2 separate regions of the Homo sapiens genome follow, and region 1 is linked to region 2. The links come from fine-mapping of genetic effects on gene expression. Tissue or cell type: whole blood. Region 2 holds a variant in brackets; the other region holds the start of a gene. All regions are shown on one strand. Distances are between the middles of the regions.

What was found.
Region 1: it holds the start of SLC7A1, and the variant in region 2 is fine-mapped to the expression of SLC7A1 in whole blood (TOPMed, PIP above 0.99).

Annotation. Positions count from the first base shown.
Region 1 is chr13:29,584,726-29,599,846 of GRCh38, forward strand. SLC7A1 (solute carrier family 7 member 1) reads right to left here and starts at 10,963. Exons shown (of 13, transcript NM_003045.5): 1 at 10,691-10,963. RefSeq lists enhancers at 4,602-5,598, 7,759-8,260, 8,261-8,760, 9,850-9,979 and silencers at 9,627-9,921, 10,090-11,329.
Region 2 is chr13:29,628,432-29,644,824 of GRCh38, forward strand. No RefSeq gene overlaps it. Among named protein-coding and RNA genes, the nearest start is that of SLC7A1, 41 kb to the left of the region's middle. The variant G/T (reference allele first, on the strand shown) is at 8,773.

The DNA.
Region 1 (15,121 bases), 44 kb before region 2:
AAAAGAAAAAACATTCAAGCATTTCTTAAGCAAAAGTCCATCCAACCTTTTCAAGAAGAACTATTTAATGGTATGGCTGCTATTGTTAATATAGTTTCAATACCGTTCGATATTAACCCATAAGATTTAGTCAAAAAATAACATTTCTATGAGTATCTTTTCTCACTCTTCTTCCCCAAAATCCTTAACTCTTTCAGACAGGTTCTTCGTCGCATCACGCTGAATAAAATAAACTCAAAGAAAATCAGAGCACTGAAATTAACAAATGTATGGCCCATTTCTAAAAACTCACATACAGCCTGACCAGGCCACCTTTGGGACACCACTGTGTCAGGTTAACGAAGGACAGATACCCCAGTATGCAAAAGCAAACCACACTGGGGAATTCACACAGGTCTGCCCTGAAAACCTACTCACTTTCTTGGGCATCATCACAGAGAATAATGTCCCCTTCAGTCAGAAACTCCTAAATCACCACAAAAAGAAACCTTGACTCTTCAACTTTCTTTGCCCTAACTGGTCTGGATGGAGAATTGACTCCCATCCCCTAGTGCCAGCAGTGAACATGAAATTCAGGACAATGTGGTGGAGTTGCAGGTGAGGTGTGGCTCATATGTCTAAACCTAGTGTGTTTTGCAAACTCCAAGTTGCCACGAGGAATTTTTCTTGTAATGAAATAGAAAAGAATAAAAATTATCTCAGCGTATCACAGATAGTAAAAATGAGTACTGTTTCATAAAAATTTTCATTTTATCTATATATCAATATGTGTGCCTCTGTGTGTGTACTTGATTACAATGTAAATTTAGTTCTTATTGTAGACTGCGGTCAAAGAAGTTTAAAAGCCGCCATCCTCGGGAACACCCAGTGAGTACCAGTGTGTGCGGGTAACCAGTAGTCCCATCCCAAACAGCCCAGAGAAAGGCTTTCCCAGCACCGGGCTTCCAGAATCCTGTGCTAAGCTGACAGTACAGAAGAGGCAGCCAACAGGGCTCTGAATCCCAAGTGCCTGAAGGAGGAATGAAACAATCTCACCAGAGAGGAAAGGACAGCTGTGACAGTCACCCTCCCTGAACAAGACCACTGAGACCAGGGATGGACATCTTCCAAGCTAACCTACAGTGCAGGTAAGAATGGGAAGCTGCATTTTTAGATAACTATCCATTAGAAACCAGGACGACATATGAACAGTGTATCTTGGTAGCCTTGGATGCTCAAGGATGAGAAACCCTGGGCAAACCAGGCAAAAATTCTCAACCACAGGACAGGACAAACTGGCCCAAAGGTTCCTTAGTTACAGAGTAAGTAAGAAGAAGCTGTAATTCTACCCCATCTGGGAACATTAGGAAAAAGACAACATCTGATACTCTGATTTCAGTAGAACTGGATTCTTCCAAAAATATAAATGTCAAAGTCACCCATTCACAGTATAATTTGTACCAAAGTGCAAAATGGGGTATGTATGTGTGCCAAAGAACAAAATCTACCAGAACTGAGCTGCTAGGGCAAAATTACAACAGAAACTTAAAATAATATATTGTCCCATCCACCTGCCAAAACATTAGCTCAAAGACATTCCTCCTTTAAATACAGTTTTACTAATTATAAGAATAGTCATTCAATAAATATTTCTTGAGCACTATTTTAGGTGCCACAAACACTGCAGTGAGAAAAACAAAGTCCAATTTTTCCAGTCTTTTCTTTCTGTGCAAATACATATATCTCATTAAGCTAACACGGAACATGGGAAATTGCACCCAGATGGTTTCACTTTTAACATTAAAGTTTCTCCCACAAAATCAAATGTTCTTTGAAAACGCCATTCTTACTGGCTACATAGTATTCTAACATGGAAATGGTATCATGATTTACTGAAAGACACTCCCAAATGCTTACCACAAGATAAAAACACAAAGGAGAGACATCATTAAATAGAACGTTAGACCTAGATTCAGAGCCTTAAGGAAAAAGAAGAAAAAAAAGGAAAATACAATCTTACAAATCTCAGAGACCCCACTATTTTCCTCCACAGGGATGAATATTCACATCCACACCACTGGCCACATCAAGCTCTAATTTGTGCATCTCCCTTTATAAGCCCCACTCCCTCTTTGATCGAAGAGAACATTGTCTGCACAGAACAATACGTTTTCATTTCAATTTCCCTTCTTTTCAGGAAAGGAAATGTTTGCACTTCAAAGGGTTTCTTTGAAGAGTAGCCCTTCAGCTCTGGCCCGTCCAGGTTGGGCGTTACGTGGACTCAGCAGGGTGTGTGGAGTCTGGGCGGCTGCCCACCGAAGTCACTCTCAAGGCCAGCTCCTTCAAGGAGAGGGTCTGGGGCCGGAGTAGAAAAAACAAACACATGGAAAAATACTCAAGGCTTTTGATCATGACCTTCAGAGGCCCATTTTCACACATAACATAGACTTACAGCTCAGGGAAACTGAGGTACAAATGATGGGGAGCTGAGGACAATGACGTAGTAGCTTCTAAGAACAAAATCCTTCCAGAAACCAGACTCGCTTAGCAAAGACCCGTTCTGGGCCAGGAAAGGGGAGAGCCACTCTCAGTTCCAGCTGTTATGGCGAATGGACCACCTAAGCGGACAAAGCAGGGAAGCGAGATCCAAACTTCACTACCTGCACCAGTTTTAAAACCTTTCCCTAGGAACTTTTGAGAAGCACAGTCATTGGCAAACAGCAAACTTCACATGGTAAAATTTCACATTTTATTTCTTCCGTAGCCCACTGGTAGGGGCCAAGAGGCTCATTAAAAGGCAAGTCTAACAACCACATGAAGCACCCAAGAGCTCACTGATATGGGGCCAGTGCTGTTTCCCTCAATCACGCTCCAGGCCCCATCCTTAACCTCTGCCAAGTCCAGGAAGCAAGGGGTATAGACCAGACAAGAGTGGGCCTGCAACATTTCTTTTCAAGTCTCAAACAAGTTCTGGATATTTATTAACGATCTCCACCCTTCCCCACCTGGAGGATATGCACCACAAAGGCACCACCAAGGCTGGTTAAGTCTGCCTGCTCGGTGGGCACCTGCCCAAGGGGTGGGCAGGAGCATGAAAGACCGTCAGCTCCAGACAGGGGCCGGCTCCTCCCACAGCCCCAGGACTTGGCTGCGGGGCTCCTGACTAGTGTGTGGGTGGTGGAGGGATCACGAGTCTGTGTGGCCAGGTCACCAGAGCTGAAGGAGCTGAGAAAGTCTTTCCACCACCTTTCTGGTCGATCACTCAGCCTCTGAGCTGGAATTATGAATGGGTTTTATTTTCTCCTTCTTTTAATTTTCTGTAGTTTCCAAATTTTCCACAACAAACATTCTAACTTTTAGAAACACTTTTTCTTAAAAAGGCTTATGAGGTAGAAAATCACACCTCTTTTGAAAGAACCCCCACACTGCAAAACTCCTTCCCCAAAAATACTTAGCTATAAAGGACATTATGTGGACGACTGCAAGTCAAATATGGACTGTGGCCTAGATCGCAGGGTTGTATTAATGTTAAATTTCCTGACTTTGCTATTGTACCATGGTTATGTGAGAGAAGAGCCTTGTTCTTAGGAAATATACACTGAAGTATAGAGGGCAAATAAAATGGCATGACGTCTTCAGCTGACTCTCAAATGGTTCAGAAAAAAATGTATGTGTCTGTGTGCATGTGAGTTTGTGTGGGGTGGAGAGAGAATAGAAGGAGGCAAAACATAACCCACCTGTGCATCTGAGAGACGGTACCCAGGAGTTCCTTGCACTCCTGCAAATTTTCTTTTCTTTTCTTTCTTTTTTTTTTTTTGAGACAGTATCTCACTCTGTTACCCAGGCTGGAGTGCAGTGGTGTGATCTCGGCTCCCTGCAACCTCCGCCTCCCGGGTTCAAGTGATTCCTGTGTCTCAGCCTCCCGAGTAGCTGCAACTATAGGCATGCGCCACCAACACCAGGCTAACTTTTGTATTTTTCGTAGACATGAGTTTCACCATGTTGGCCAGGGCTGGTCTCAAACTCCTGGCCTCAAGTGATCTGTTTGCCTCAGCCTCCCAAAGTGCTGGGATTACAGGCGTGAGCCACCATGCCTGGCCTCTGCAACTTTTCTTTAAGTTTGAAATGTTATCCAAAAACTGCTGAAAAAGAAAAGGGGAAAAGGAGAAGGGCAAAAGGGATGAGGGAAGAGTTCTCCTAACTCTAACTGCCAGTCTTTCCCAGGGGCCTTCACTGGGTCCCAGAAACTGCACCCTAACGCCCCCAGCTCCTAGACCAGGCCTCATCCCAAGGGAGGGCAGGAGGTGTCCCTGACACTGTGGAAAAGCTGCGGGCCAGGAAGACTCTCCCAAGTCACTTTGGGGAAGACGGGCCCTTGCTGCAGGCCCTGGTGTGGACAGCTCCTGCCCCAGCCTCTCTGAGAGTGTTAAAGATGCATCCTCTAAGGAAAGGGGGCACCTCCGCAAGATATTGTAGAAATCAGCAAAGCCAAGCCAAGGGCAGGATGACAGCGGCCACTGGCCTTAAGAAGGATGGAACACAGAAAAGGAAGCTGACTTTCCCCTACGAACAGTCTCTGATTTCCACAAGACCCCCTGCAAAGGGGTCTCCCCAGGTGGAGATGGAGGTGGAGTGTGGGCGTGGCTGGATGGTGATAAATCAAACAAGGCTCCATTGTGGTCTGGGCAGGAGGCATTGCATCCAGCCAAAGGCTGGTGATGTAAATGCCAAACTACTGACCCAGAAAGAATGCAGCCCAGCCTCCGTCACACACACCGGCTCCTGACACTGGCCACGTCCCAGCGCAGCTGCCCCAAGGACCCCAGGGCTCCAGCTGTGCCAGGTGCCTGGACTTGGGAGGGGGAAGACCCACTTTCAGAGACAGCAGAGGGAAATCAGGGCAAAGAGAGGGGAGGCAGGGTGCCCTCCAGCGTTGGGGCGGGTGACCGGTGCCAGCACCACCTGGACTCAGCCAGAAACAGAGGGACGCAGGCAGATGGGCTTCAGATCTGTCTGCCTCCCACTCAGTGTACACAGGGCAGGCCAGGCCAGGCCTATCCCGAGACAGGCTGGAGTCCAGGTACAGGCAGACATCTGGGTTCCAATCTTCACTCTGCCACTGACTGCCTACCTGTGTGCCCGTGGGCCACCTGCCTTCCCCTCTCCCCATCAGTCACACCAGAAGGGCCGATCCCACTGGGTGGTTAGGAAGATTCAAATGAAACATAGATAAAGCGCAGAGTACATGGTGAGCACTAAATAAGTGCTTGCAATGATTGATCTTACCTAGCCCCAGGGCCCCTCCCTTCCTTCCTACTTGGCCTAACAGACTTTGGCTAATGGCACTCAGTAAGCAGACAAGATGCAGAGAAGGACACTTCGAACACGTCCATAACAGATCAACTCCAGCCACTTTGTGGGGAGGATGAGCCCCTGCCTTCTCACTGCTGCCCCCAGGTGGGTGTCGCCCACCACCCCTGTGCTGTATGGAGACATCCTATCCTACAGACCCAAGCACGGGATGAGTGAGGTGGGAAACACGGCCCAGAGTTTCAGCTTTTCAGCTTTGCTTTTTCTAAAACCCAAGGGCTTCGGAGTAATTTGAACAACATGTTTGGGATGACTGTAGCCAGGGCAGTCACTCCCGTCCTGCCCCCCACCAAACACACACACATACATATACACATACACATACACATACACATAAACATACACATACCCACACACAGCAAACACTAAGAAAGGGGCTGAGAGCTCTGTTTCCCAGGAGTCCTAGAAGTCACTGAGCGCAAGGTGCATGGGTCTGAGTCCTAAGCAAACCTGCACCCCATGCTCAGGGAGACATCAGGATTCCAAAGAGAGATGGCTTCAAGTCCATCCAGGCAGTCAGAGCCAAAACAGCCCAGAGACTATTGTTCCTTCCCTCAGACCTGGGACCAGATGGGATGGTGAACCTGTCAGCAGATGCCTCAGAGGCCCGCATCCCTCCTCCAGCACCCTGGGACTATGTCTGCCCCTTCTAATTTAGAAACCCACCCAAGGAAAGAGCACAACATTTTAATGCCTTGGTAAAATGAGAGAGCGAAATTAAGTTGTTGTAAAAATTATTTTTCTCAGGGCTAGGCTAAGTGGCTCACGACCATAAACCTAGCACTTTAGGGAGGCGAGGCAGGTGGATCACTTGAGGCCAGGAGTTTGAGACCAGCCTGGGCAACATAATGAGATCCCTTCTCTACCAAAAAATAAAAAATAAAAATTAGCCGGGTGTGGTGGTACACACCTATGGTTCCAGGTACCTCAGAGGCTGAGGTGGGAGGATCGCTTGATCCCAGGAGGTGGAGGCTAATACAAGCTGTGACTGCACCACTGCACTCCAGCCTGGGTGACAGAGTGTGACCCTATCTCAAAATATATATATATTTTTCTCCCACACCTAAATCAAGGAACTGAGCCTTCTTTCCAGTATAATAGTTAACACTTACATGCAACATTTAGACTTGTGCCAGAGGCTGTGTTAAATCCATAACATGGATTATCTCATTTAAATCCTCTCAGTCCTATAAAGTAGGCACTAGAAGGCAATTATTATGCAAACAATATGAAAAAGAATTTAAATGTGGTTCTGAGGAATATCTCAGAAAAGACACTGACCCCGTAAGTGGAACCCACTCTGGGGCTCTGCTCTTTCTGCCAGTAGGGATCATGATGTCTCCTTTGACCCCACAGCGTAGAAGCCCCATAACCTCATGTTGCAGAGGCCCCATACCGAGCAGAGGCCACTCCCTGAGTCACCACTGCTAGATGGTTTCTACAATGCAGAACTCACTGTGCAGGACACGGCAGTGTGGGATCCACTTTTAAAGAAACAGGAAAGCAGCTGGTTGCCCTCACAGCCAAGAATCCGATCTGAACAAGTATTCTGAAGAAAGCACTGCAGTAGGAATATGGAAAGCTAGGAAACAAAATTGCCATGCCCTCTGTGCCCCCAGAAAAGGGAGGGGGGCAAGGGGACAATCAGAAAAAAATGGAAAGACAATGTAGCCAGACATAGTCCTACCAGAAGAAGGGACATCCTCTCCCACCTCCAAATAAACCCCCAGGTTTCCTCGCGCTTGATTTTTGGTTGCCACGGTCAGAAATTTTTGGTTGCCGTGGTCAGAATTGCAGGCTGCTAACAAAAGGACTGATCTCAAGAGAGAAATGTAAATGCATGGACTTGGTGCCTTGATTCTTTCAAAGAACACTGTGGACTCCATGCTTCCTAACTTCACTACTGTGAGGCTGAGAGGGACAGGCTCTCCCAATATACAGATGGAGCCAGTATGTAAGGTTCACGAAGTCTAAATTACTTCAGAGAGAAGCAAAGCCAGAGAAGCCAGGAGCGGTGCTGTTCCCAGTATTGGTCCCAACTCCCCTCAAAGAAGCATCCTTCGTTTCAGGGCAGATAATCATCCCATTCTGCATTGAAGCTGTGAAGGCCTCTTCCCTCAGTCACACGGCTCTGATTCCAGTTATCCAGTGTGTTCACCAAATGCAATACCTGCCATTCCCCACTGTTCCTGACAATAACTAGAGGAAAAAAGCCCAATGAAAGCCACTGGGTGTGGCAGGAGGGGCAAACCACAGACCAGCCAGAATCTGGTCCAAAGCCCAGAAACATCTTTTCTGAAGCCCAAGTTCCTGGGATGACCAAATCTCGACCAGTGGGCCAGGTAAATGGCATCCCCTGGGTCTGCCAACACTGCACATCTGAACGAATGCCTTGGGAGAAAAAGGAACACGGCTAGCAAGCCACCAAATCATTTTCCCAGTTTGATGCCCATCCTTCTGGTAATTCCATTTGGAAATGTACTAAGCCTGGATTGACAGATCATGACCCACACTGAACCACAGGGGTGGTTATTTTCAAGGCTGCTTTGTAGATGGGTATGGGAGTGGGGGAGGAGGCAGATTATGGCAAAACAGAAAGGGAGGCCACTAAAGTTTATCACAAGGCAGATAATCTGCCACAAATGAAGCTACTACTCTGTTCCCTCACGGGAAGAGAGGTCTAAACCCTGGGGTGGATAGCAGGTTGGCCAGGGATCTGATGCCTCCCCACCCGAGGCCTGGGAAACCTGAGGGTAGGCAGATGTCCTGAAGATCCAGGAATACCCCAGGACCTTTGAACCCCATGTATGGAGGGTCTCCATCCCACAGGACAAGTCCACCACCAGGCGGCCCACTAGAAGGCGGCAGGGGAGCAAAGGGAGGCCATGGGCAGCAAGGAGACAGAGGCTGAAGAGACCCCCCAGATTTGGCGAGAGGAGCCAGTAAAGCTAGGTGAAGGGGAAGGAGGCCAGCAGCCTGGACGGGTGGCTGCAACACACAGGCAGGCACCTGAGAGGGGCCCCAAGAAGATACATCTTCCAGCCCTGACCCTGGGGATAAGAGTTCTAAAAAGGTCAGTTGTGACTTTCAAAAAGTCCCTCTTCCATCCAACACGTTCTTTGCTCAGCCTTCCCATCTCATTAATACAGCAACTCCGATGTGCTTGGAGTCATATTTGACCTTTCTCGTCCTTCCATGAATCCACCGGCCAATCCTATTGGATCTGCCTTTAAAATCTATCCAGGTCTGCAGGGGCCAACTATACAGAAAAACACCACATCCTATCGGAAGGTCTTGCTTGGAGTGAGGACCAAGAGGCAGGTGGAGTGATAGGCATCTCTGAAGATGCCTCTGGAAGAGATAACTCCGAGACTCAAGTATCTCCAAGGTTAGAGGGAAACAATATTTTTCTCCATAACAAGGATGCACTTATTCACATTTCAAATTTGTCCCTAGGATTAATAGCAATCCCTCCAAATACATGGTTGATAATGAGAAAGGATTAATTTAATTGGACATAATTCTGAGCCCTCCAACATAATTATCTATTTGTATGGACTTTGGTTAAAATAAACTACAGACCAGAATAATCAATCAACACGTATTTAATTCCATCAAAGAATGAGTTCTTCTACCAAATAGAAAATTGTAACTCCCTGAAGTCAACAGTCTTGTCTTTCAAGCCTTTCTTTTTTTTTTTCACCTAAAGCAAGTAATCATATGTACAGGAGCACGTGGCTCTAGGATCCAGACCCAGACAAGGGAGTACATTTCTGATCTACTTACTAAGCCCTTTCCTCTTTACTCAAAACTCCTTTGACATCCTTTGAATTTTACCTTTATAATAATTAAACATGATCGTAATATGCTAAACCTATTTTTAAAACCATTTTAATCTATTGTTGACCTTTCCCCTAAGTTTCTATTCTGTTCGTGTGACTTAAATAAGACCTTTTGTTTTAATAACAGGAGGGTGTGTTCATATAAAAATCATGGTAATTTCCACTGAGATCAACTAAAAATACCAGAGGAATAAATGTATCATGGTTTCCTATTATCTGAACCAAACATAAAGGGCAAGAAATGTTAGGAAAAATCCCAGATAAATTATAATTCGAATTAAATACAATTAGGGCATTCGGCCAGAGGCCGACATACACAATTCTACTAGTCGAATGTAAGTAAGATAAAAGGCACATTCTTTAGGGAGATACACCTGGGATTGAAATCTCAACCATCTGGTAACTATGTCTGGACTAAAACCCAACACATGAGGGCATGGCGGTGATGACGTGAGTATTGGGAAATGTAGGTTATTTATTTATTTTTTTCCTGAAGGCACATGTCTGACTATCCTAGTCACACAAGTCAAACACAACTGCTGTCTGGTTCCCCCATCCCCTGGAAAGGGTCAGGAGCTGAACCAGCAGGCTGTTGTAGTACTACAGTGCAGCTGCCGCTCTGTGTACGCGCAGGTTTTAGAATGACTCTGACCTGCCCATGCCTGGGAAGTTTTCTACTACGCAGAAAGGAACACCCTGAGAATACGGTGTCTTGCTAAAGGCGGAAGAACTTCCTCTCATTCCAAACCATGTGGAGGGCTTGAGGAACCCGGCCTTTCCAGGCCACACTGGGTCACAAGGAAGCCCACCTAGGGGAGACTTCCTCAAAGCAATCTTGGGGACCCAGACGAGAGGTGCAGGCGGCGCGTCCCGGGTTCTAGGGACAAGCGGAGAGCCAGGCGCCCTAGGTCAGGGCGGCCACCGGGCGGGGATGGCAGCAGAGTCCCTGGGCCGGCCACCTGCCGCGGGACCACCCTCCGGGCGGCCGGGCAGAGTCCCCACCCACGGCTGATGACACATCCCCGGACCTCGTGGCGGGGCGGGGTGCTCTGCACCGCGCCATGTAAGGGAAGGTCTCCTCGCCGCCGGCGGGCTCCGTGTGCCTCCCAGTCTGGCCCCCGTGCCCGCCGCCCGCCTACGCACCCCGACCACCCCGTGCGTAGCGGCGCGCGGGTCCCCGGACAGGCGCGCGGAGCGGGCATCGCCAGATCGCCCACGCTTACTCACTCGGTGTTGCATCATGCACCACGCCGCGGTTTCAGGGAGCCAAAATGGACTCCGTGGAGGCGACAGTCGCATGGGCACCAGCCCCGCTCGCCCACTCCGGGGCCCGCCCGGCCCTGGTCCTGGCCCTTCCCAGAGGATGGCAGCGTTCCCGGCGCGGGGGCCCTCGCCACTCCCGCGCCGCCCTGCCGCGGCCCCACGCGGCGCCAGGGCCCCCTCCGTGATGACCCGGGCCCAAGGAGCTGCCCCCTGCGTTGGCGGGGCCGGGCACTCACCAAGCCGGCGGCGGCGGGGCTCCGGCAGGATCGCGAACAGACAGACTGTCGGACGCGCTCAAGGACCAACGGACGCTCGGCCGGCGAGACCGGGCGGGGCGGGGCGGGGCGGGGGCGCGGCGCGCGGGGAGAGGAGTGGAGGCTGCGGTTAGCGGGAGCCCGCGGCCGCGTGCGCGCCTGCCAGGTAGTTGACCCGCTGCTCACACCTGCCTGCGCGGACTGAATGGGCGCCGAGGGCTGGCGGGTTCCGGCGCCAGGTTTCATCAGCAGTGCGCCCGGCCCCCGCCCCTCGCGCTCCGCGCCCCGCGCCCCACGCCCGCCCCCGGACCAGGCAGCCCCGGCCCGCTCGGCCGCGTCACCGCCGGGCACCAATGGGAGCGCGGCGCGGCGGCGGCTGCCAGCCCAGAGGCTGCGGCCGGGGACCGACGCGCCCTTGGTGGGCGGGGCGGCTGAGTCTTCGCGCGCCCAGCGCCCCAACCTGGGGTTCCCGCGGCGGGCGGGCGGGCTGCGCCTCCGCTCGCCTTCTCAGTAGCTCCGTAGGCGTGTGGCCGTTTCTCCGCCAATCTGAGCGCACCGCGCCACAGCATCCTGTGGTCCCCTGCAGATCCCACAGCGCCCTGGCCAGAACTAGTGCTGCAGGTCCGGCCGTGCCAACCCCCTCCCGGCGGGCCCCAGGGAGCTCACACGGAACTCGAGACCAGTTTTCCTTCTCCAAAATAAAAGATTTGGTATGCACTTAAAAGGTTTAAACTGTTTTCTTTTCATTTTAGAGACAGGGTGTTACTCTATTGCCCAGGCTGGAGCGCAGTTCACCTTAACCTCGAAATCCTGGCCTCAAGCGATCCTCCCGCCTGGGCCTCCCAAAGCGCCCTAGGATTACAGTCCTGAAACACTGCACCGGCCTAAAAATTATTATAAATCTTCATGTCTTTGTTATTGGATTATTTTATTACTATTCCTTTGCCCTTGCTAATACCTTATCCTTGCCAGTTGTCAGAAGAGCCCCAAAGCTTGAATCTACCTGTGCCCCCTTGGCAGTGGCAAATGCACAAACGGCTAGTCAGAACGGCTCACTTTTGCAGTTACCCCCCAGGAAGTGGCAGAAGCTTCAGTCCTGAATCACACCGTGCTCACCTTTTAAGCTCCCTCCTTGTCTCCTTTTGTACCAAAAGCCAAGCGAGAATCATAATCTTTAAAGATCCAGTGATCTGGGACTTGGGATAGGTAAACAGGGCATAAATTAATAATGCCATCCTTCTTCTATCTTATAGGAAAACAGAAAAACAGTGGACGGTGTCCGTGGTCTTTGAATCCTTTCTACAGGTCCTTCTCAAATATCAGCTGCTGAACTATTCCCTTGGAATTAGACTAGCAATTTATAAAGTACATAACTGCATGGTGCTAGCTTCAGAAAAAGTGTTCTGTTGTTGTTGCTGTTGTCATTTGTTTGTTTTTTAGAGACAGGGGTCTCACTCTGTCACCCAGGCTGGAATGCAGCGGTACAATCATAGCTCACTGGAACTTCAAATTCCCAGGCTCAAGCCATCCTCCTGCCTCAGCCTCCCAAGCAGATGGAACTACAGGCTTGTGTCATCACGCCTAGTTAATATTTTTTCTACATATAGACACGGGTTTTTGATATGTTGCATAGGCTGGCCTCAAATACCAGCTGTCTAGCGATCATTTTGCCTCAACCTCCCCTAGCATCGGGACTACAGGGATGAGCCAGAAAAAGTCCCCAGAAAAAGTTTTAATGAACACATGCAGATGGCTTAGCAGTTGTAAAATGTGTTTTTGTCTTTGTTTTAGAGAGTGGGTCTCACTCTGTCACCAAGTTGGAGTGCAGTGGCAACATCATAGCTCACTGCAGCCTTGAACTCCTAGGCTCAAGCGATCGCCTCACTTTAGCTTCCCCAGTAGCTGGAAATATAGGCGAGCACCATCCTGCCCAGCTTTGTAATGTGCTTTGAACAGTGCTTGACATCATAGTAAGCCACCATATATGCTTTGTTTTAAAGCAACAAATCTGGCCTGTCACGGTGGCTCACGCCTGTAATCCAGCACTTTGGGAGGGCAAGGCAGGCAGATCATGAGGTCAGCAGATTGACACCATCCTGGCCAACATGGTGAAACCCCGTCTCTACTGAAAATACAAAAATGATCTGGGCGTGGTAGCGCACGCCTGTAGTCCCAACTACTCGGGAGGCTGAGGCAGGAGAATCACTTGAACCCAGGAGGCGGCGGTTGCAGTGAGCCAAGATCGCACCACTGCGCCCCAGCCTGGTGACAGAGCGAGACTCCGTCTCAAAAAAATAATAATAAAAATCAATAAAAAATAAATAAAACAATGTATCTTAGTTCAATTGCACAGTGGTGAAATGATGCCTTCCATTCACAGAAGATCTCCCAGATCCCACGCAGCCTACTCTGTCTGCTGAGGCCACAGTAAGCATGTCCCCTTCTCACAGAGAGAAGCCTGGTAGGATTAAAGACCACCTGCTTTGCCCTTGGCACCAGATCAGGATTTGAATCTGAACTCTACCAGTTCATTTGCTGTGAGAGCTTCTGCAAACTATTTCACTCCTGTTTGGAGCTTGTAAATCTTATATTCTTAAGAAAAAAATCTATCCCTTGGTGTTTGAAATATGACTGTGGAATTTTCTCTTTCTGCCTCTCTTTCTTTCTTTTTCTCTTTGCTGACTTCTGGCAGTAAAATAGAATTTCATAAATTGTAGAGATGCTCTCCTTGGGCAACACAGAGCGCCAACATGAGTTAATGTTTGTAAATTCTGAGAGCAAGTGCTCCAGGCCCTGATGGGAGTATGGTGACATTTAACCCAGGAGATTTTTAGCACTGTGCTCCGTTTAGCAATCCCACTCAGCAAGGTCCTGTCTTCAAAAAGACAATAAGACAAGCCCCATGAGCAAGTGACTTCTCAGCAAAAAGGATTCAGTATGAACCAGGGAAAAAATAGTTACGCACAAGATCTCAGCAAAACATTAGAGGATGCTGATAAAGAGGGCTACATGTTTTAAGCAAAGCCAGTTTTTAGGCAGGTCAAGACTCACATTACAGGTTCAGAGAAACCGTGAGTGACAGGCAGCCTTGATTACAATCAAAGAGCAGCTGCCCAAGATTCCAGCAACCATTAAGAAAGGGAGATGCTACAATTTAGGCCCTAGAGAGCAACATCTAAGGTTAAGGTTGACATACTAAGTCTCTTTCTAGCACCATTAGGCACCTTGGGGGCAAGGAAAGTGCACAGAATCAAAGCCAGGCAGATGTGGGTTTCAATTCTAACCAGCTGCTGGCCTGGGGAGAGGGGCCCTGCTCACTCTGTGCCTCAGTTTCCTCATTTTCGAAATAAGAATTTTACTACCTGCTGGATACATACGAACTTCATGGTAAGGATGAAAAATGTGTATAAAGATGAACAGAATATAGAGCTCAGAAATAGACTTAGTTTGTTTTGTATTGCTATAATGGAATACTCGAGTCTGGGTAATTTATAAAGAAAAAATGGTTTATTTGGCTCACAATTCTAATGGCTGGAAAGTTCAAGATTGGACATCTGCATGTGGAGAGGGCTTCAGGCTGCTTCCACTCATGGCAAAAGATGAAAGGGAGTGTGCGTGTGTGCAGAGATCACATGACAAGAGTATAAGCAAGAGGGAGAGGAGAGAAGGGCCCGGTTCCTTTAAATAACCAGCTCCAGAGTCATCTAATAGAGTGAAAATTCATCTCCCCGTCCCACCTACCCCCAGGAAGGACATTTCATGAAGGATCCACACCCGTGAACCAAATACCTCCCATTAGGTTCCACCTTCAACATTGGGGATCAAATTTCAACATGAGGTCTGGAGGGCACAAACATCGAAACCCAAACAGTAGCCTAGACCCACACAAATAGCTGATCCAGAGTGGCTAAGACAAGTCAATGGAGACAAGATAGTCTCCTCAACAAATGGTCCTGGAACAACTGGACCTGGACCGCCACATGCAAAAAATAAATCTAGACACAGACTTTAACATCTTACACAGCAATTAACTCAAAACAGATCATAGGCCTAAATGTAAAACACAAACCTATAAAATGCTTAGAAGATAACATAGGAGGAAATCTACCAATGGCTTTTTAGATACAACAGCAAAAGCATTATCTATGAAAGAAATGATTGCCAAGTTGGCCTTCATTAAAGTTAAAACCTTCTGGTCTGCAAAGACAATGTTAAGGCAATGAAAAGACAAGCCACAGGCTGGGAGAAAATCTTTGCAAAATACATATCTGATAAAGGACTGGTATCCAAAATACACAAAGGACTCTTAAAACTGAGTAATAAGAAAACACCTCACTTTAAAAACACAGCAGGGCGCGGTGGCTCACGCCTGGAATCCCAGCACTTTGGGAGACCGATACAGGTGGATCACCT
Region 2 (16,393 bases):
CACAACCTTATAGCAGACATACAACAAAAAACCAAAACTTCAGGCCAATATCCCCAATGAACATCGATGCAAAAATCCTCAGTAAAATACTGGCAAACTGAATCCAGCAGCACATCAAAGAGCTTATCCACCATGATCAAGGTGGCTTCTTCCCTGAGATACAAGATTGGTTCAACATATGCAAATCAATAAATGTATTTCATCATATAAACAGAACAAAAACCACATGATTATCTCAATAGACACAGAAAAGGCCTTTGATAAAATTCAACATCTTTTCATGTTAAAAACTCTAAATAAACTAGGTATTGAAGGAGCATACCTCAAAATAATAACAGCCATATATGACAAATCGACAGCCAATATCATACTGAATGGGCAAAAGCTAGAAACATTTCCCTTGAAAACTGGCACAAGACAAGGATGCCCTCTCATCAATCCTATTCAACATAGTATTGGAAGTTCTGGCCAGGGCAATCAGGCAAGAGAAAGCAATAAAGAGCATTCAAATAGAAAGAGAGGAAGTCGAAGCCTGGGTAACAGAGTGAGACTCTGTCTCAAAAAAAAAAAAAAAAAAAAAAAAAGAAAGAGAGGAAGTTGAATTATCTTTGTTTGAAGATTATATGATCCTATATCTAGAAAACCCCATTGTCTTAGCCCAAAAGCTTCTTAAGCTCATAAGCAACTTCAGCAATGTCTTAGGATACAAAATCAATGTGCAAAAATCATAAGGATTCCTATACACAAACAATAGGCAAGCAGAGGGCCAAATAATGAATGAATTTCCATGCACAATTCCTACAAAGAGAATAAAATACGTAGGAATACAGCTAACAAGGGAAGTGAAGGACCTCTTCAAGGAGAACTACAAACCACTGCTCAGGGAAATCAGAAAGGACACAAACAAATGAAAATACATTCCATGCTCATGGATAGGAAGAATCAATATCATGAAAATGACCATACTGCCCAAATTTATAGATTCAATGGTATTCTCATTAAATTACCACTGATATTCTTCACAGAATTAGAAAAAAACTATTTTAAAATTCACATGGAATCCAAAAAGAGCCCGAATAGCCAAGACAATCCTAAGCAGAAGGAACAAAGCTGGAGGCATCATGCTACCCAACTTCAAACCATACTAATAAGGCTACAGTAACCAAAAGAGCATGGTACTTGTACAAAAACAGATACATAGACCAATGGAACAGAATAGAGAACTGAGAGATAAGACCACACACCTACACCCACCTGATCACTGACAAATCTGACAAAAAGAAGCAGTGGGAAAAGGATTCCCTATTTAATAAATGGTGCTGGAAGAGCTGGCCAGCCATATGCAGAAACTGGACCCCTACTTTACACCATATACAAATATTAACTCAAGATGGATTAAACACTTAAATGTAAAACCCAAAACTATAAAAACCGTAGAAGAAATAGGCAATACCATTCAAGGCATAGGCACAGGCAAAGATTTCATGCCAAAAATGTCAAAAACAATTGCAACTAAAGCAAAAATTGACAAATGGGATCTAATTAAACTAAAGAGCTCTGTACAGCAAAAGAAATTATCATCAGAGTGAACAGACAACCTACAGAATGGGAGAAAAATTTTGCAGTCTATCCATCTGACAAAGATCTAATATCCAGCATCTACAAGAAACTTAAATAAATTTACAAGAAAAAAACAACCCCATTAAAAAGTGGGCAAAGGACACGAACAGACACTTCTAAAAAGAAGACATTCATGCAGCCAACAAACATATAAAAAAAGCTCAACATCACTCATTGTTAAAGAAATGCACAAAAACCTAAAACCAAAATGAGATACCATCTCATGCCAGTCAGAGTGGTGATTACTTTTTTAAGAGGAAAATAAAGTTTATTTATGACACTTTTTAAAAAAAATTATACTTTAAATTCTGGGATACATGTGCAGTATGTTCAAGTTTGTTACATAGGTATACATGTGCCATGGTGGCTTGCTACACCCATCAACCCGTCATCTACATTAGGTATTTCTCCTAATGCTATCCCTCCCCTAGCCACCCAACCCCCAACAGACCCCAGTGTGTGACGTTCCCCTCCCTGTGTCTGTGTGTTCTTATTGTTCAACTCCCACTTATGAGCGAAAACATGCAGTATTTGGTTTTCTGTTCCTGTGTTAGTTTGCTGAAAATGATGGTTTCCAGCTTCTTCCATGTTCCTGCAAAGGATATGAACTCATCCTTTTTTATGGCGCATAATATTTCATGGTGTATATGTGCCACATTTTCTTTATCCAGTCTATCATTGATGGGCATTTGGGTTGGTTCCAAGTCTTTGCTATTGTGAATAGTGTTGCAATAAACATACATGTGCATGTGTCTTTATAGTAGAATGATTTATAATCTTTGGGTATGTACCTAGTAATGGGATTGCTGGGTCAAACAGTATTTCTAGTTCTAGATCCTTGAGGATTTGCCACACTGTCTTCGACAATGGTTGAACTAATGTACAGTCCCACCAACAGTGTAAAATTGTTCCTATTTCTCCACATCCTCTCCAGCATCTATTGTTTTCTGAGTTTCTAACGATCGCCATTCTAACTGGCATGAGATGGTTTCTCACTGTGGTTTTGATTTGCATTTCTCTAATAACCTGTGATGATGAGCTTTTCTTTCACAAATCTGTAGGCTGTATAAATGTCTTCTTTTGAGAAGTGTCTGTTCATATCCTTTGCCCACTTTTTGATGGGGTTGTTTTTTTCTTGTAAATTTGTTTAAGTTCCTTGCAGATTCTGGACATTAGCCCTTTGTCAGATGGATAGATTGCAAAAATTTTCTCCCATCTGTAGGTTGCCTGTATAATCTGATGATAGTTTCTTTTGTTGTGCAGAAGCTCTTTGGTTTAATTAGATCCCATTTTTCAATTTTGGCTTTTGTTACCATGCTTTTGGTGTTTTAGTCATGAAGTCTTTGCCCATGCCTATGTCCTGAATGGTATTGCCTAGGTTTTCTTCTAGGGTTTTTATGCTTTTAGTTCTTACATCTAAGTATTTAATCCATCTTGAGTTAATTTTTATATAAGGCATAAGGAAGGGGTCCAGTTTCAGTTTTCTGCCTATGGTTAGCCAGCTTTCCCAACATCATTTATTAAATAGGGAATCCTTTCCCCATTGCTTGCTTTTGTCAGGTTTGTCAAAGATTAGATGGCTGTAGATGTGTGGCATTATTTCTGAGGCTTCTGTTCTGTTCCTTTGGTCTATAAATCTGCTTTGGTACCAGTACTATGCTGTTTTGGTTACGGTAGACTTGTAGTATAGTTTGAAGTTAGGTAGCGTGATGCCTCCAGCTTTGTTCTTTTTGCTTAGGATTGTCTTGGCTATACAGGCTCTTTTTTCATTCCATATGAAATTTAAAGTAGTTTTTTCTAATTCTGCGAAGAAAGTCAATGGTTGCTTGATGGGGATAGCATTGAATCTTTGAATTACTTTGGGCAGTATGCTCATTTTCACAATATTGATTCTTCCTACCCATGATCATGGAATGTTTTTCCATTTGTTTGTGTCCTTTCTTATTTCCTTGAGCAGTGGTTTGTGGTTCTCCTTGAAGAGGTCCTTTACATACCTTGTAAGTTGTATTCCTAGGTATTTTGTTCTCTTTGTAGCAATTGTGAATGGGACTTCACTTATGATTTGGCTCTCTGTTTGTCTATTATTGGTGTATAGGAATGCTTGTGATTTTTGCACATTGATTTTGTATCCTGAGACTTTGCTCAAGTTGCTTATCAACTTAAAGAGATGATGGGGTTTTCTAAATATACAATCATATAATCTGCAAAGAGACATAATTTGACTTCCTCTTTTCCTATTTGAATATACTTTATTTCTTTGTCTTGCCTGATTGCCCTGGCCAGAACTTCCAATACTATGTTGAATAGAAGTGGTGAGAGAGGGCATCCTTGCCTTGTGCTGGTTTTCAAAGGCAACGCTTCCAGCTTTTGTCCATTCAGTATGATATTGGCTGTGGGTTTGTCATAAATAGCTATTATTGTTTTGAGATACATTCCATAAATACCTAGTTTATTGAGAGTTTTTAGCATGAAGGAGTGTTGAATTTTATCGAAGGCCTTTTCTGCATCTATTGAGATAATCATGTGGTTTTTGTTATTGGTTCTGTTTATGTGATGGATTACATTTATTGATTTGAGTATGTTGAACCAGCCTTGCATCCCAGGGAAAAAGCCAACTCGATCATAGTGGATAAGCTTTTTGATGTGCTGCTGGATTCGGTTTGCCAGTGTTTTATTGAGGATTTTTGCATCAATGTTCATCAGGGATATTTTCTTTTTTGTGTGTGTCTCTGCCAGGGTTTGGTATTGGGATGATGCTGGCCTCATAAAATGAGTTAGGGAGGAGTCTCTCTTTTTCTATTGTTTGGAATAGTTTCAGAAGGAATGGTACCAGCTCCTCTTTCTTTCTTTTTCTTTCTTTTTTTTTGAGACAGAGTCTCGCTCTGTCCTCTGTCCCCCATGCTGGAGTGTAGTGGCACAATCTCGGCTGACTGCAAGCTCTGCCTCCTGGGTTCACACCATTCTCCTGCCTCAGCCTCACGAGTAGCTGGGATTACAGGCACCCGCCACCATGCCTGGCTAATTTTTTGGTATTAAAAATACCAAAAAGAGATGGGATTTCACCGTGTTAACCAGGATGGTCTCGATCTCCTGACCTCGTGTTCTGCCCGCCTCGGCCTCCCAAAGTGCTGGGATTACAGACGTGAGCCACCGCACCCAGCCACCAGCTCCTCTTTCTAACTCTGGCAGAATTTGACTGTGAATCCATCTGTTCCTGGGCTTTTTTTTGGTTTGTAGGCTATTAAGTACTGCCTCAATTTCAGGTCTATTTAGGGATTTGACTTCTTCCTGGTTTAGTCTTGGGAGGATGTATATGTCCAGGAATTTATCCATTTCTTCTAGGTTTTCTAGTTTATTTGCATAAGGGTGTTTATAGTATTCTCTGACGTAGTCTGTATTTCTGTGGGTTCAGTGGTGATATCCCCTTTATCATTTTTTATTGTGTCTATTTGATTCTTCTCTCTTTTCTTCTTTATTAGTCTGGCTAGCAGTCTATCTATTCTGTTAATCTTTTCAAAAAACCAGCTCCTGGGTTCACTGATTTTTTTAAAGGTTTTTCGCGTCTCTATCTTCTTCAGTTCTGCTCTGATCTTAGTTATTTCTTGTCTTCTGCTAGCTTTTGAATTTGTTTGCTCTTGCTTCTCTAGTTCTTTCAATTGTGACATTAGGGTGCCAATTTTTGATCTCTCCTGCTTTCTTTTGTGGGTATTTAGTGCTATAAATTTCCCTCTAAACACTGTTTTAGCTGCATACCAGAGATTCTGGTATGTTGAGTCTTTGTTCTCATTGGTTTCAGAGAACTTATTCATTTCTGCCTCAATTTTGTTATGTACCTGGTAGTCATTCGAGAGCAGGTTGTTCAGTTTCCATGTATTTGTGTGACTTTGAGTGAGTTTCTTAATCCTGAGTTCTAATTTGATTGGACTGTGATCTGAGAGAATGTTTGTTATTATTTCAGTTCTTTTGCATTCACTGAGGAATGTTTTACTTCCAGTTATGTGGTCAATTTTAGAATAAGTGTGATGTGGTGCTGAGAAGAATGTATATTCTGTTGATTTTGGGTGGAGAATCTGTAGATGCCTATTAGCTCCACTTGGTGCAGAGCTGAGTTCAAGTTCTGAATATCCTTGTTAATTTTCTGTCTTGCTGATCTAATATTGACAATGGGGTGCTAAAGTCTCCCACTATTATTGTGTGGGAGTCTAAGTCTCTTTGTAGGTCTCTAAGAACTTGCTTCATGAATCTGGATGCTCCTGTATTGGGTACATATATATTTAGGATAATTAGTTCTTCTTGTAGCCTTGATCCCTTTACCATTATGTAATGCCCTTCTGTTTTTGTTGTTGTTGCTGTTGTTTTGATTCTTGTTGGTTTAAAGTCTGTTTTATCAGAGACTGGATTGCAACCCCTGCTTTTTTTTTTTTTTTTTTTGCTTTCCATTTGCTTGGTAAATATTCCTCCATTTCTTTATTTTGAGGCTATGTGTGTCTTTGCATGTGAGATGTGTTTCCTGAATACAGCACACTGATGGGTCTTAAATCTTTATCTAATTTGCCAGTCAGTGTCTTTTAACTGGGGCATTTAGCCCATTTACACTTAAGGTTAATATTGTTATGTGTGAATTTGATCCTGTCATTATGATGCTAGCTGGTTATTTTGCCTGTTAGTTGATGCAGTTTCTTCACAGTGTCAATGGCCTTTACAATTTGTCATGTTTTTGCAGTGGCTGGTACCAGTTGTTCCTTTCCATATTTAGTGCTTCCTTAGGAGCTCTTCTAAGGCAGGCCTGGTGGTGACAAAATCTCTCAGCATTTGCTTGTCTGTCAAGGATTTATTTCTCCTTCACTTATGAAGCTTAGTTTGGCTCGATATAAATTCTGGGTTGAAAATTCTTTCCTTTAAGAATGTTGAATATTGGCCCCCACTCTCTTGTGGCTTGTAGGATTTCTGCAGAGAGATGCACGGTTAGTCTGGTTAGTCTGATGGGCTTCCCTTTACGGGTAACCCGACCTTTCTCTCTGGCTGCCCTTAACATTTTTTCCTTCATTTCAACCTTGGTGAATCTGACAATTATGTAGATTGGGGTTGCTCTTCTTGATGAGTATCTTTGTGGTGGTCTCCATATTTCCTGAATTTGAATGTTGGCCTGTCTTGCTAGGTTGGGGAAGTTCTCCTGGATAATATTCTGAAGAGTGCTTTCCAACTTGGTTCCATTCTCTCCGTCACTTTCAGGTGCATCAATCAAATGTAGGTTTGGTCTTTTCACATAGTTCCATATTTCTTGGAGGCTTTGCTCATTCCTTTTCATTCTTTTTTCTCTAATCTGGTCTTCTTGCTTTATTTCATTAAGTTGATATTCAGTCTCTGATATCCTTCCTTCCACTTGATCAATTCAGCTAATTATATTTGTGTATGCTACATGAAGTTCTTATGCTGTGTTTTTCAGCTCCATCAGGTCATTTACATTCTTTTCTAGACTGGTTATTCTAGTTAGCAATTCCTCTAAACTTTTTTCAAGGTTCTTAGCTTCCTTGCATTGGGTTAAAATGTGCTCCTTTAGCTCGGGGGAGTTTGTTATTATCCACTTTTTGAAGCCCACTTCTGTCAGTTTGGCAAACTCATTCTTCACCCAGTTTTGTTCCCTTGCTGGCGAGGAGTTGTGATCATTTAGAGGTGGAGAGGCATTCTGGTTTTTGGAATTTTCAGCCGTTTTTGCACTGGTTTTTCCTCATCTTTGTGGATTTATCTACTTTTGGTCTTTGATGTTGGTGACCTTCAGATGGGGTTTCAGTGTGGGCATCCTTTTTGTTGATGTTGATATTATTCCTTTCTGTTTGTTAGTTTTCCTTCTACCAGTCAGGCCCCTTTGCTGCAGGTCTGCTGGAGTTTGCTGGAGGTTCACTCCAGACCCTCTTTGCCTGGGTATCACCAGCAGAGGCTGCAGAACAGCAAAGATTGCTGCCTGTTCCTCCTCTGAAGCTTGGTCCCAGAGGGGCACTCGCCAGATGCCAGCCAGAGCTCTCCTGTATGAGGTGTCTGTCTACCCCTGCTGGGAGGCGTCTTGTTGTCAGGAGGCACAGGGGTCAGGGACCCACTTGAGGAGGCAGTCTGTCCCTTAGCAGAGCTCGAGCACTATTCTGGGAGATCTGCTGCTTTCTTCAGAGCCAGCATGCAGGAAGGTTTAAGTCTGCTGAAGCTATGCCCACAGCCACTTCTTCCCCCAGGTGCTCTGTCCCAGGGAGATGGGAGTTTTATCTATAAGCCCCTGACTGGGGCTGCTGCCTTTCTTTTAGAGATGCCCTGCCCAGAGAGGAGGAATCAAGAGAGGCAGTCTGGCTACAGCAGCTTTGCAGCATTGAGGTGGGCTCCGCCCAGTTCGAACTTCCCAGTGGCTTTCTTTACACTGTGAGGTGAAAACCGCCTACTCAAGCCTCAGTAATGGCAGACAACCCTCCCCCGAGCAAGCTGGTGCATCCCAGGTCAACTTCAGACTGCTGTGCTGGCAGCGAGAATTTCAAGCCAGTGGATCTTAGCTTCCTGGGCTTCCTGGGGGTGGGATTTGCTGAGCTAGGCCATTTGGCTCCCTGGCTTCAGCCCCCTTTCCAGGGGAGTGAATGGTTCTCTCTTGCTGGCTTTCCAGGTGTCAATGGGGTATGAAAAAAAATCTCCTGCAGCTAGCTCTGTGTCTGCCAAAATAGCTGCCCAGTTTTGTGCTTGAAACCCAGGGTCCTCATGGCATAGGCACATGAGGGAATCTCCCTATCTGTGGGTTGGGAAGACCATGGGAATAGCGAAGTATCTGGGCTGGATAGCACAGTCCCTCATGGCACAGTCCCTTATGGCTTCCCTTGACTAGGGGAGGGAGTTCCCCAACCCCTTGTGCTTCCCGGGTGAGGCAACACCCCACCCTGCTTTGGCTCACCCTCTGTGGGCTGCACCCACTATCTAACCAGTCCTAATGAGATGAGCTGTGTACTTCAGTTGGAAAAGCGGAAATCACCCACCTTCTGTGTTGATCTCACTGGGAGCCGCAGACCACAGCAGTTCCTATTTAGCCATCTTGCCAGCCACCCAGAGTGGTGATTATTAAATAGTTAAGAAACAGCAGATACTGTCAAGGTTGTGGAGAAAAAGGAATGCTTTTACACTGTT[G/T]GTGGGCATGTAAATTAATTCAAAAGTGTAGGAGACAGTGTGGTAATTCCTCAAAGATCTAGAAGCAGAAATACCATTTGACCCAGCAATCCCTTTACTGGCTATATACCCAAAAGAATAGAAATCATTCTATTATAAAGATACATACATATGTATGTTCATTGTAGCGCTATTCACGATAGCAAAGACATGGAATCAACCCAAATGCCCATCAGTGATAGACTCGATAAAGAAAATGTGGTATATATAAACTATGGACTACTATGCAGGCATAAAAAGGAATGAGATCATGTCCTTTGCAGGGACATGGATGGGGCTGGAGGCCGTTATCCTCAGTAAATTACTGCAGGAACAGAAAATCAAACACTGCATGTTCTCACTTGTAAGTGGGAGGTGAACGATGAGAACACATAGACACATGGAGGGGAGCAACACACACTGGGGCTTGTCAGGTGTGGTGGGGGTTGGGAGAGCATCAAGAAGAATAGCTAATGGATGCTGGGCTTAACAGCTAGATGATGGGTTGATCTGTGCAGCAAACTACCTATGTAACAAACCTGCACATCCTGCACATGTAACCCAGAACACAAAATAAAAGTTGAAGAAAAAAATAAATAATTATGGAAACAAAAACTGAGATAATTCATCATAAGAAGATCTGAACTAAAGGAAATGCTAAAAGGTATTCTTCAGGCAAAAGAAAAATGATCCCAGATAGATGATAGAAATTCAGAGATGTAGGAAGAAATGAAGAGCAGTAAAAAAAAAAAAAAAAAAAAGTAAGTGAAAAACAATGTTTTATGATTTTCAAATATGTACAATTAAAATATAACAATGGCATAAAGGTATGGATGGGGGATGAATAGAGTTAAATAAAATATTTGAAAGTCCTTTTGAAAGAGGGTGAAAAATAACCAAATAATCAAGTAGCATATTTATAATAAAAATACAGCAATTATAACGAATGTAAAAGATTAATTTTTTGATTAAAGGTTAAGACTGCCAAACCACATTAAGATAAAAACAATATCACCTTTTTACTGCTTTTTTTGTTTGAGATATGGTCTCGCTCTGTGGTCATACTGGAGTGCACTGGCCTGACCATGGTTCACTGCATCCTCAACTTTCTGGGCTCACGCAATCCTCCCACCTCAGCCTCTTGTGTTTACTGCTTTACAAGTAAAGTATAGAAAACATCAGGATGGGAAAAGATGTAACATGCCATGCAAACATCTATCAAAAGATTAACATAGTAGTAACTACATTAGTATCAAACAGACTTTAAGGCAAAAAACATTACTGTGAGTATAGAGAGAAATTCCTTATGATAAATGAGCTAGTTCACCAAAGAGCTATAATAATTATATATCTGAACATATGTAATAACACAGCTTCAAAATATGTAAGGGAAAAATTGACAGATCCTAAGAGGAGAAGTTCACAACTATAGTAGGATACTTTGCGCACCTCTTCTAGTCAATGGTAGAACAAGCAAACAAAAATTCAGTTGGGATACAGAAAATCTGAACACAATAATGAGTCAAGCTGATCTAATTGTCAAATATACAACACTCATGCTCAATAATAGCAGACTATCTGTTATTTTCAAATGCACATGAAATATTTATAAAAAATTGCTATAAGTGAAATCAGAAATCAAATATTGACACGTGTCAAAGAACTTAAGTCATACAAAAAATTTTCTTCTATTAAATGCAATTAAACTAGAAACAACAAACATAACTAGAAAATCGCTACATGTTTGGCCATTAAGACATAAACTTCTAAATAACCCACCAGTCAATGAAAATATCACAATGAATATTTTAAAATATTTTAAATTGAAAAATGTCAAAAATGTTACATTTCAAAACTTGTAGGATATAGCTAAAATGTTGTTAGAGGGAAATCTATAAGTTTATATGCATATGTTTGAAAAGAAGAAAGGTGGACATTCAATTATTTTTACTTATTGATTTATTTTTGAGACAGAGTCTCACTCTGTTGCCAGGCTGGAGAGCAGTGGTATGATCTCGGCTCACTGTAACCTCTGCCTCCCGAATTCAAGTGATTTTCCTGCCTCAGCCTCCCAAGTAGCTGAGACTACAGGTGTGCACCACCACGCCCAGCTAATTTTTGTATTTTTAGTAGAGACGAGGTTTCACCATGTTGGCCAGGATGGTCTCGATCGCTTGACCTTGTGATCTGCCCGCCTCGGCCTCCCAAAGTGCTGGGATTACAGGCATGAGCCACCGTGCCCAGCTCAATTATTTAAATAACTGTCATGAGAAAAAAAAAAGAACATTAAAGTAAACTCCAAAATTATGTAAGGAAGAAATAATAAATGTAGCCACAAGACTTAATATAATAGAAAATAAAATAGAGAGGAATGACAAAATAAAAGATAGATTATTTGAGAAGACTAATAAGTTGATGAACCCATGGCAACATTAAGAAAAAAAGAGAAAAGATGTAAAGAATCAATGAAAAATAGAAAAGTAGAAATACCACAGACCTCATAAACATGAAAACACCATGAGAAGATAGCATGAACAACTTTATTTACTTATTTTAACTTTTATTTTAGGTTCAGGGGTACATGCGCAGGTTTGTTATATTGGCAAACTTGTGCCATGGGGGTTTGTTGTACAAATTATTTCATCACCTAGGTACCAAGCCAAATACTCAACAGTTATTTTTTTTCTGACTGATGCTCTCCCTCCTCCTACCCTCCACCCTCAAGTAGGCCCCAGGGTCTGTTGTTTCGTTCTTTGTGTTCGTGTGTCCTCATCATTTAGTCCCACTTACAAGTGAGAGAATGTGGTATTTGATTTTCTGGCTGCGTTAGTTTTCTAAGGATGATGGCCTCCAGCTCCATTTGTGATGAACAACTTTAAAACAATATTTTGAAAATTTAGAGGAAATGTTTAAATTTGTTAGATAAAAGTATAACTTACCAATATTGGGACAAAAATAGAAAATCTGAAAGCCACATAAGGATTAAAGAATATGATCTATAAAACCCAATAGCTTTGCCAATATATTCTTCTGGACATTTAGGAACGCAATAATGCTAATTTATAACAAACTCTTACAGAGAAAAACCAAAGTAGGAATACTCTACAACAATTAGGTCAAACCTTCTGAAAAGGCTGTTGGTGTCAATCAAAAATGATTGAATATCAGCGATTGCATATGGGTCAATCTAATAGTTTTATGATCCATCACAAAATTGATACAAAATCCCAATGAGGATATTTTAAGAAAGGATAATACAGCATGACCAAGTTCGGTTTTGTTGAGGCCAAGAGAGAACTCTGAAAATCAACTGACAGAGGCAGATGAAGAGGAGAAAAGGCATATGAATATATTAATGTGCAGGGAGGGGGAGCCATCCCAGAATGATTAACCCACCACACAATAGGCCAAAGGGGTACAGATGCTTACATACCCTTCTTCTTAGGGGAAAGGAAGATAGGAAAGTGTGGATGATTTTAGGGGGATAGTAAATGATTTTTAGGGGAATTCAATGAGACTGAAAAACGTAATGGCCTGGGACAAAGTTAGCTGGGCTTGCAGAGCACATAGTGGTTTGTGACAAGTCTGTTCAGGCGTGTTGACAGACTTCAGTGTTTCTTCCTGCAATATAAGTTCAGTTTATAAAACTCAGGGAAGGGAGCAGAGGTCATTGTTTTCTTCTTCGGTGAGCCCAGACTTTAGGCAGATAAGGGAAGTTCAGAGAACAACTCCATCCTGTGCTTTGGGAGAGACAGAGGATTGAGAGACAAGATGGGGGAAGCCCAGAGAGGCCTTGAGGCTTCTCGTTCAGTTCAGCATTTCAAGGCATCATATTTTGGGGTATCAGTTTCTGAGCCCCAACAGTTTGTTCTAGAAAGTTAACTTAAAGGGGGTAAAATCTATGTAACTTACAAAATTAGCAACACAAAGAAGAAAAATGACACAATCAACTCAATGGACTTGGAAAGGGTATTTGATAAAAAAAACACTTATTCATGATACAGGAAGGAAGTGGGGGAAAAACTCTTGGCAAAGTAGAAATAGAAAGAAACTGATAAGTTGTATCCACCAAAAACCTACAGCCAATATCATACTTATTGGGCAAGTGTTGAAAGCTTTTGTTCTGGTATCAGGGATCAGACCAGGATGCTCATCATTAACTATTTCTATTAAACATTTTACTGGATATTCTAGTCAGTACATAATGTGAAGAAAAAGAAACAAATTATAGAAAGAAAGAGAATTATCATTATTCAGAAATAATATAAAAAAATTATATCCCTAAAAAATCTAAAATAATCTGTATTTAGAACTAATGTTCTAATAGTTCCACTAGAATGATTAGATTTTATCTAATATATAGTATGTGTTAGATTATATATCATTTATTAGATTTTATCTAATGTATATAAAATATATCTAAATAGATACAGGATCTTAAGGTTGAAGGTTTGGATATTGATTTGAGAACTACTTTTTTTTTTTTTTTTTTTTTTTTATTATACTCTAAGTTTTAGGGTACATGTGCACATTGTGCAGGTTAGTTACATATGTATACATGTGCCATGCTGGTGCGCTGCACCCACTAATGTGTCATCTAGCATTAGGTATATCTCCCAATGCTATCCCTCCCCCCTCCCCCGACCCCACCACAGTCCCCAGAGTGTGATATTCCCCTTCCTGTGTCCATGTGATCTCATTGTTCAATTCCCACCTATGAGTGAGAATATGCGGTGTTTGGTTTTTTGTTCTTGCGATAGTTTACTGAGAATGATGGTTTCCAATTTCATCCATGTCCCTACAAAGGATATGAACTCATCATTTTTTATGGCTGCATAGTATTCCATGGTGTATATGTGCCACATTTTCTTAATCCAGTCTATCATTGTTGGACATTTGGGTTGGTTCCAAGTCTTTGCTATTGTGAATAGTGCCGCAATAAACATACGTGTGCATGTGTCTTTATAGCAGCATGATTTATACTCATTTGGGTATATACCCAGTAATGGGATGGCTGGGTCAAATGGTATTTCTAGTTCTAGATCCCTGAGGAATCGCCACACTGACTTCCACAATGGTTGAACTAGTTTACAGTCCCACCAACAGTGTAAAAGTGTTCCTATTTCTCCGCATCCTCTCCAGCACCTGTTGTTTCCTGACTTTTTAATGATTGCCATTCTAACTGGTGTGAGATGATATCTCATAGTGGTTTTGATTTGCATTTCTCTGATGGCCAGTGATGATGAGCATTTCTTCATGTGTTTTTTGGCTGCATAAATGTCTTCTTTTGAGAAGTGTCTGTTCATGTCCTTCACCCACTTTTTGATGGGGTTGTTTGTTTTTTTCTTGTAAATTTGTTTGAGTTCATTGTAGATTCTGGATATTAGCCCTTTGTCAGATGAGTAGGTTGCAAAAATTTTCTCCCATGTTGTAGGTTGCCTGTTCACTCTGATGGTAGTTTCTTTTGCTGTGCAGAAGCTCTTTAGTTTAATTAGATCCCATTTGTCAATTTTGTCTTTTGTTGCCATTGCTTTTGGTGTTTTGGACATGAAGTCCTTGCCCACGCCTATGTCCTGAATGGTAATGCCTAGGTTTTCTTCTAGGGTTTTTATGGTTTTAGGTTTAACGTTTAAATCTTTAATCCATCTTGAATTGATTTTTGTATAAGGTGTAAGGAAGGGATCCAGTTTCAGCTTTCTACATATGGCTAGCCAGTTTTCCCAGCACCATTTATTAAATAGGGAATCCTTTCCCCATTGCTTGTTTTTCTCAGGTTTGTCAAAGATCAGATAGTTGTAGATATGCGGCATTATTTCTGAGGGCTCTGTTCTGTTCCATTGATCTATATCTCTGTTTTGGTACCAGTACCATGCTGTTTTGGTTACTGTAGCCTTGTAGTATAGTTTGAAGTCAGGTAGTGTGATGCCTCCAGCTTTGTTCTTTTGGCTTAGGATTGACTTGGCGATGCGGGCTCTTTTTTGGTTCCATATGAACTTTAAAGTAGTTTTTTCCAATTCTGTGAAGAAAGTCATTGGTAGCTTGATGGGGATGGCATTGAATCTGTAAATTACCTTGGGCAGTATGGCCATTTTCACGATATTGATTCTTCCTACCCATGAGCATGGAATGTTCTTCCATTTGTTTGTCTCCTCTTTTATTTCCTTGAGCAGTGGTTTGTAGTTCTCCTTGAAGAGGTCCTTCACATCCCTTGTAAGCTGGATTCCTAGGTATTTTATTCTCTTTGAAGCAATTGTGAATGGGAGTTCACCCATGATCTGGCTCTCTGTTTGTCTGTTGTTGGTGTATAAGAATGCTTGTGATTTTTGTACATTGATTTTGTATCCTGAGACTTTGCTGAAGTTGCTTATCAGCTTAAGGAGATTTTGGGCTGAGACGATGGGGTTTTCTAGATAAACAATCATGTCGTCTGCAAACAGGGACAATTTGACTTCCTCTTTTCCTAATTGAATACCCTTTATTTCCTTCTCCTGCCTGATTGCCCTGGCCAGAACTTCCAACACTATGTTGAATAGGAGTGGTGAGAGAGGGCATCCCTGTCTTGTGCCGGTTTTCAAAGGGAATGCTTCCAGTTTTTGCCCATTCAGTATGATATTGGCTGTGGGTTTGTCATAGATAGCTCTTATTATTTTGAAATACGTCCCATCAATACCTAATTTATTGAGAGTTTTTAGCATGAAGGGTTGTTGAATTTTGTCAAAGGCTTTTTCTGCATCTATTGAGATAATCATGTGGTTTTTGTCTTTGGCTCTGTTTATATGCTGGATTACATTTATTGATTTGCGTATATTGAACCAGCCTTGCATCCCAGGGATGAAGCCCACTTGATCATGGTGGATAAGCTTTTTGATGTGCTGCTGGATTCGGTTTGCCAGTATTTTATTGAGGATTTTTGCATCAATGTTCATCAAGGATATTGGTCTAAAATTCTCTTTTTTGGTTGTGTCTCTGCCCGGCTTTGGTATCAGAATGATGCTGGCCTCATAAAATGAGTTAGGGAGGATTCCCTCTTTTTCTATTGATTGGAATAGTTTCAGAAGGAATGGTACCAGTTCCTCCATGTACCTCTGGTAGAATTCGGCTGTGAATCCATCTGGTCCTGGACTCTTTTTGGTTGGTAAACTATTGATTATTGCCACAATTTCAGAGCCTGTTATTGGTCTATTCAGAGATTCAACTTCTTCCTGGTTTAGTCTTGGGAGAGTGTATGTGTCGAGGAATGTATCCATTTCTTCTAGATTTTCTAGTTTATTTGCGTAGAGGTGTTTGTAGTATTCTCTGATGGTAGTTTGTATTTCTGTGGGATCGGTGGTGATATCCCCTTTATCATTTTTTATTGTGTCTATTTGATTCTTCTCTCTCTTTTTCTTTATTAGTCTTGCTAGCGGTCTATCAATTTTGTTGATCCTTTCAAAAAACCAGCTCCTGGATTCATTGATTTTTTGAAGGGTTTTTTGTGTCTCTATTTCCTTCAGTTCTGCTCTGATTTTAGTTATTTCTTGCCTTCTGCTAGCTTTTGAATGTGTTTGCTCTTGCTTTTCTAGTTCTTTTAATTGTGATGTTAGGGTGTCAATTTTGGATCTTT